2 linked regions of the Homo sapiens genome follow. The protein of the gene in region 2 purifies or fractionates together with the protein of the main gene of each other region. This does not show direct contact. Each region holds a gene or a part of one and is shown on either strand. Other genes may lie near its edges.

Evidence for each region.
Region 1: the proteins of CCT8L2 (region 2) and ACSL4 purify together in Homo sapiens (co-immunoprecipitation; 2 studies listed by BioGRID and IntAct, with this or other methods). This does not show direct contact.

What each region holds. Positions count from the first base shown.
Region 1 is NC_000023.11:109,642,632-109,646,380, reverse strand, and holds part of ACSL4 (long-chain-fatty-acid--CoA ligase 4), read left to right. Parts: intron 1-2,194; coding exon 2,195-2,352; 3' UTR 2,353-3,749. UniProt on the Homo sapiens protein: Catalyzes the conversion of long-chain fatty acids to their active form acyl-CoA for both synthesis of cellular lipids, and degradation via beta-oxidation. Preferentially activates arachidonate and eicosapentaenoate as substrates.
Region 2 is NC_000022.11:16,590,999-16,594,747, reverse strand, and holds the start of CCT8L2 (T-complex protein 1 subunit theta-like 2), read left to right. Parts: upstream 1-1,937; 5' UTR 1,938-2,197; coding exon 2,198-3,749. UniProt on the Homo sapiens protein: Possible molecular chaperone; assists the folding of proteins upon ATP hydrolysis.

The sequences.
Region 1 (3,749 bases), on a different chromosome or scaffold from region 2:
CTTTAAGAATGTTGTATATTGGCCCCCACTCTCTTCTGGCTTGTAGAGTTTCTGCCGAGAGATCCGCTGTTAGTCTGATGGGCTTCCCTTTGAGGGTACCCCAACCTTTCTCTCTGGCTGCCCTTAACATTTTTTCCTTCATTTCAACTTTGGTGAATCTGACAATTATGTGTCTTGGAGTTGCTCTTCTCGAGGAGTATCTTTGTGGCATTCTCTGTATTTCCTGAATCTGAATGTTGGCCTGCCTTGCTAGATTGGGGAAGTTCTCCTGGATAATATTCTACAGAGTGTTTTCCAACTTGGTTCCATTCTCCCCATCACTTTCAGGTACACCAATCAGATGTAGATTTGGTCTTTTCACATAGTCCCATATTTCTTGGAGGCTTTGCTCGTTTCTTTTTATTCTTTTTTCTCTAAACTTCCTTCTCACTCCATTTCATTCATTTCATCTTCCATCATTGATAGCCTTTCATCCAGTTGATCGCATCGGCTCCTGAGGCTTCTGCATTCTTCACGTAGTTCTCGAGCCTTGGCTTTCAGCTCCGTCAGCTTCTTTAAGCACTTCTCTGTATTGGTTATTCTAGTTATACATTCTTCTAAATTTTTTTCAAAGTTTTCAACTTCTTTGCCTTTGGTTTGAATGTCCTCCCGTAGCTCGGAGTAATTTGATTGTCTGAAGCCTTCTTCTCTCAGCTCGCCAGAGTCATTCTCCGTCCAGCTTTGTTCCGTTGCTGGTGAGGAACTGCATTCCTTTGGAGGAGGAGAGGCGCTCTGCTTTTTAGAGTTTCCAGTTTCTCTGCTCTGTTTTTTCCCCATCTTTGTGGTTTTATCTACTTTTGGTCTTTGATGATGGTGATGTACAGATCGGTTTTTGGTGTGGATGTCCTTTCTGTTTGTTAGTTTTCCTTCTAACAGACAGGACCCTCAGCTGCAGGTCTGTTGGAGTACCCGGCCGTGTGAGGTGTCAGTCTGCCCCTGCTGGGGGGTGCCTCCCATTTAGGCTGCTCGGGGGTCAGGGGTCAGGGACCCACTTGAGGAGGCAGTCTGCCCATTCTCAGATCTCCAGCTGCGTGCTGGGAGAACCACTGATCTCTTCAAAGCTGTCAGACAGGGACATTTAAGTCTGCAGAGGTTACTGCTGTCTTTTTGTTTGTCTGTGCCCTGCCCCCAGAGGTGGAGCCTACAGAGGCAGGCAGGCCTCCTTGAGCTGTGGTGGGCTCCACCCAGTTGGAGCTTCCCAGCTGCTTTGTTTACCTAAGCAAGCCTGGGCAATGGCGGGCGCCCCTCCCCCAGCCTCCCTGCCACCTTGCAGTTTGATCTCAGACTGCTGTGCTAGCAATCAGCGAGACTCCGTGGGCGTAGGACCCTCCGAGCCAGGTGCGGGCTATAATCTCCTGGTGCACCGTTTTTTAAGCCTGTCGGAAAAGCACAGTATTTGGGTGGGAGTGACCCGATTTTCCAGGTGACCCGTTTCTTTGACTAGGAAAGGGAACTCCCTGACCCCTTGTGCTTCCCGAGTGAGGCAATGCCTCGCCCTGCTTCGGCTCGCGCATGGTGCGCACACCCACTGACCTGCGCCCACTGTCTGGCACTCCCTAGTGAGATGAACCTGGTACCTCAGATGGAAATGCAGAAATCACCCGTCTTCTGTGTCGCTCAGGCTGGGAGCTGTAGACCAGAGCTGTTCGTATTTGGCCATCTTGGCTCCTCCCCCTTCTCTTTTGTTATGAGTGGTCAGGGATGTCCTCTCCGGGGTGGTGGTATTTGAGCAGACATATGGATAAAGTATGGAAGTGACACACAACTTTATTGAGAAAGACCATCTCAGGCAAATATAAAGTCTCTGAAGAGGAAGATGTGTGTGTATGTGTGTGTGTGTGAGTATAAATAATGTGTATATGTATGTATATTTTAATAACCACATAGACTAAAACTATCCAACTGAAACAACTTAGGTATACTTTGAGAAATATAAAATGAAATTGTAAGGTAGAGGTAGCATTAATAAACTATCTAGTATACCATTAAATAAGTTTGTGGTGATTGGTGATTCAACACCCGAATCATCTAGGTAAATCCTGAAAAACTCATATTTTATTAATTGCTTCTCCTTCCCCTTCTTTCCCCGTCCCCACTCCTTTCTCGTCTCTTTCCCCCCCTCTCCTTTTCTCCCATCTTTCACTTCTAATTTCAGTGAAATTGGAGCGATTTGAAATTCCAATCAAGGTTCGATTAAGCCCAGAGCCATGGACCCCTGAAACTGGTTTGGTAACTGATGCTTTCAAACTGAAAAGGAAGGAGCTGAGGAACCATTACCTCAAAGACATTGAACGAATGTATGGGGGCAAATAAAATGTTGTTGTCTTATTGACAGTTGTGCAGGAGGTAGCCTGGTGGTTTTCAACCTCTAGAATTTTAAGCCTTTGTTGAACTGTTAGAATGTAAGGTATATCATTCTAAAGATAGAGTAAAAAGAAAACAAAACCAAAAGTTATTAAAATTGTTGTCCGGTTTACTTTAACTTAGTTTTGCATAGTTCTAGTGCAGCTGAAATTGAAAAGTTATTTCCCTTTAGCTGTGTTATTATAGAGCAGAAATTCTGTTTTTAAAAATTAGCCTAAGATATACTTGTTTTTGTAAAGAAAAATATTTAATGTTGAACAAAATAAATTGGAGTTGGAGTAGAATGTAGTTTGAGGAAATTTGCAGCTTCCAATGCCTCTTGTCTTCCTATTTCAGAAGTTTAAATATTAAGCATGACAGAAAATATGTATTAACACTACTCAAAGCAAAAGTGCTGCAGGGCTTTAAAATTCTCTTCCAACCATTTATCTTGAAGGAAAAATTCAATAGTAATATAATACACAAAATCAAATAATACCTTAGAAGGTATTAAGATTATAATTGTTGCATAGGTTAGATATAGAGTCATTGTAATGTTGTGAATAATTACAGTGCCTAAAATAAGAATAGAACAACATATACAACACCAAAAAATATCTAGTAATATATTTAAAGGGAAATTGAGCTGCTTTTTTTGAAACTTTGAGATCTAAAAATAACTGTAATTATTTGAATGACTAAGAGGAAAGTACATTTTTTGAAATGCTGAAAATTGCCTTTCTGTGTTTATTCAAACTGAAAAGCTGAGACCAAGAGCAAGGAAGGTAAAAAGTTAACAGGCAAACATTTTCTCTTAGAAAAGGTGATAAAATCATAAGTATTTGGAATTAGAACCCTTGCACAGCACTGAACCTGGGAAAGAGATTTAAACTCTGAATTTATCTTTGATAACAGGGATTGATTTTAAAATGTACATGTATTAAATTACATTTGTAATTTAAGGTCTGTTTGCTGTTGCTGATTTTATTCTTGATCAGTAGTTTGCATTTCAGAAAGCCTTTCATTTTGCTTTAATTTTAGCAAAGCGGGTTATAATGAATGACTTCCCCAATATCTTGCTTGAACTTACAGGTGATTAACTTGGATGAGTTTTGGGAAGTTAAAGGGAAGAAAACACTGTTATCATTTTTTCCTGTTTGGGAAGAGCTTAGAAACTGGAAATACTAGATTTGGGAGAAGGGCAGAGTTACTTGATAAGGGACTGATGTTTGTGCAGTAACTTGGGAGTGTGGTTTCTTTTTGAATCTTTAATTAAAACCTGGGATTATATATCCCTGATAAATATTCACACTTGAACCATAGTTACTGTAAAATGCAAAAAATCTTAATACTGTTATTCTTTGCAC
Region 2 (3,749 bases):
CCCTGAGGTCAGGAGTTTGAGACCAGCCTGACTAACATGGAGAAACCCTGTCTCTACTAAAAACACAAAATTAGCCGGGCATGGTGGCACATGGCTACTCAGTCCCAGCTACTCAGGAGGCTGAGGCAAGAGAATTGCTTGAACCCGGGAGGCAGAGGCTGTGGTGAGCCGAGGGTGAGCCGAGATTGCGCCATTGTACTCCAGCCTGGGCGACAAGAGCGAAACTCCGAAACTCCATGTCCAAACAAAAAAAGAAACATTTCTCTGAGCCAAGATAATGTTGAGGGGGAAATGATCACAGAATAGCATATATGTATCATAATCTTATGTAAAATGGTGTAAATCTATAATTATGTATGCATATAATATGTGCAAAGTAGTAATGTTCATCAAGTTGTAAACAATGGTTATCTCTGGACTAGGATTCCAAATGACCTTTCCCCTATTTTTTTTGAGACAAGTCTCACTCTGTTGCCCTAGCTGGAATGCAGTGGTGCAATCATGGCTCACTGAAGCCTCAACCTCCTGAGCTTAAGCAATCCTCCCGCCTCAGCCTCCCAACGTGCAGGGATTACATGCATGAGCCACCACGCCCAGACTAAATATGTGTTAAACTAAAGCAGAAGCATCATTACCCGAGTAGGCTCTATAGGAGGAAAGAGGAGACAAGTGAGGAAAGGAGAGAGAATGAAAAAAAGAGACTTAAATTGTAAGCATTGAAGGTTAGGATGGGAAGGCGATTCGCATTTAAATCTCAGGACCCCATTTAGGCTTCTACCTCCCTGACCGCTGGGAGGCTGGTTGCTTTTCACCCCTCTGGGTTCACTTCTATTTGTCTGTGAGCTGTCAGCATCCTTCCCCACTTGTCTTGCCCTGCCTCTGCCAGGGAGGCAGAGTTGGGAGTCGTGGCACAGGCATGCACGCTGTGCAGCCTCCCACACCTGCACCCTGAAAGACCAACAGACACCCTAAGAAACCTGATACACAAGCACAAACTGATAAGATACCCAAAAAGTCAAAGGCAGACAGCAAAACATGGCTAATATTACACAGTACTGCAAGAGAAAGTAACACCAAAACAAAACAAAACACAGACATCATCTCTCAGTTCCTTCTCAAATAAAAAAAAAAGGCCAGGTGCAGTGGCTCACACCTGTAATCCCAGCACTTTTGGAGGCCGAGGTGGGCGGATCACTTGAGGCCAGGAGTTTGAGACTAACCTGGCCAACCATGGCCAACATGGTGAAATCCCCCTATCTCTACTAAAAATATAAAAAATTAGCCGGGCGTGGTGGCTGGCACCTGTAATCCCAGCTACTGAGAGGCTGAGGCAGGAGAACTGCTTGAACCTGGGAGGTGGAGGTTGCAGTGAGCTAAGATTGTACCACTGCACTCCAGCCTGGGCAACAGAGTGTGACTCTGTCTCAAAAAAAAAAAAAAAAAAAGGGTGGGTGAGGTGGTGGCTCACACCTGTAGTCCTAGCACTTTGGGAGGCCAAGGTGGAAGGCTCTCTTGAGGCTAGGAATTCGAGACCTGCCTGGACAACAGACAGAAACACTGTCTCTACAAAAAATAAAAAAACTAGCTAGGTGTGGTGGTGTGTGCCTGTAGTCCCAGGTACTTGGGAACCTGAGCAGGAGGACTGCTTGAGACCAGGGAGCTGGGCCTGCAGTGAACCATGGTTATGCCCCTGCACTCCAGATAGGGTGAAATGGGTAGTTTTTCACTTGATCTCCTCCTCATTGTCTCTTACGTTTAAACAAGTCTCAAACCTGGTGCAGAGGTGCATGTACCTCCATTGCTGGACAAGGCCTGACTTTTGCCTGCTGGTAGGGCCTCCTCAGTTCTAACCAGCCTTCTGTGACCTCATTCTCTATCCTGGTTCCATTTTCCACTTTGTGACTTCATCAGTTAAAGATCCCATTTCAGCCACCAAGGTTGAGAGGCCCCAAGACCCAGTTCCTTTACAGAATCAACCCTGGGGTGGCTTTAGGACTGGGCTCTTTGGAGCTCATCCTTGGACCCACAGTGGAGTGCTGGTCCGTGCTGATGTCTTCAGATACCAATCAATGGGCATTTGGCTCCTTGCTTCCACTGACCTCTTGAGTACTTTCAACGATCGGTGTCAGGAGTGCCCCAGCTGCTGTTTCTAGAGCATCTCTGCAACCCACGGTGGCCTCTCCTCTCTCTGCGGGCCATGGACAGCACAGTCCCTTCAGCCCTGGAGCTGCCCCAGCGGCTGGCACTGAACCCAAGGGAGAGCCCGAGGAGTCCAGAAGAGGAGGAGCCCCACCTGCTGAGCAGCTTGGCTGCAGTCCAGACCCTGGCCAGTGTCATCCGGCCTTGCTATGGCCCCCACGGCCGGCAGAAGTTCCTGGTGACCATGAAAGGAGAAACAGTGTGCACGGGGTGTGCCACTGCCATCCTCAGGGCCCTGGAGCTGGAGCACCCAGCAGCATGGCTCCTCCGGGAAGCAGGACAAACCCAGGCAGAGAATAGTGGGGACGGCACAGCCTTCGTGGTTCTGCTGACGGAAGCCTTGCTGGAACAGGCAGAGCAGCTGCTGAAGGCTGGCCTGCCTCGCCCGCAGCTCCGGGAGGCCTACGCCACGGCCACTGCAGAGGTCCTGGCCACACTGCCCTCCCTGGCCATCCAATCTCTGGGGCCTTTGGAAGATCCATCCTGGGCCCTCCATTCTGTGATGAATACCCACACCCTGTCCCCCATGGACCACTTGACCAAGCTGGTGGCCCACGCCTGCTGGGCTATCAAGGAACTAGACGGCAGCTTCAAGCCTGAGCGTGTTGGGGTGTGCGCGCTGCCCGGGGGGACACTGGAGGATTCCTGCCTCCTCCCGGGGTTAGCAATATCTGGGAAGCTCTGTGGGCAAATGGCCACAGTGTTAAGTGGTGCCAGGGTGGCTCTCTTTGCTTGCCCCTTTGGTCCTGCCCATCCAAATGCACCAGCAACGGCCCGTCTTTCTAGTCCTGCTGATCTAGCTCAATTTAGTAAAGGAAGCGATCAATTACTAGAAAAGCAAGTAGGCCAGCTAGCAGCTGCAGGAATTAATGTGGCAGTGGTGTTGGGGGAGGTCGACGAGGAGACCCTCACACTGGCGGACAAGTATGGCATCGTGGTGATTCAAGCTAGGTCTTGGATGGAGATCATTTACCTGAGTGAGGTGTTGGACACACCTCTGCTGCCTCGTCTGCTCCCTCCCCAGAGGCCAGGCAAGTGCCAGAGGGTTTACAGGCAGGAGCTGGGAGATGGTTTGGCTGTGGTATTTGAATGGGAATGTACAGGCACACCTGCCCTCACTGTGGTTCTCAGGGGAGCCACCACCCAGGGGCTGCGGAGTGCAGAGCAGGCCGTCTACCACGGCATTGATGCCTATTTCCAGCTATGTCAAGATCCCAGACTGATTCCAGGAGCTGGGGCCACAGAAATGGCTTTGGCAAAAATGCTTTCTGATAAAGGAAGCAGATTGGAAGGGCCCAGTGGGCCTGCATTCCTAGCATTTGCCTGGGCCCTGAAGTATCTTCCTAAAACTTTGGCAGAGAATGCAGGCTTAGCTGTCTCAGACGTGATGGCAGAAATGAGTGGAGTGCACCAAGGTGGGAACCTCCTAATGGGTGTGGGAACTGAAGGGATAATAAATGTGGCCCAGGAAGGGGTGTGGGACACCCTAATAGTCAAAGCCCAAGGATTTCGAGCAGTGGCTGAGGTGGTGCTACAGCTCGTGACTGTAG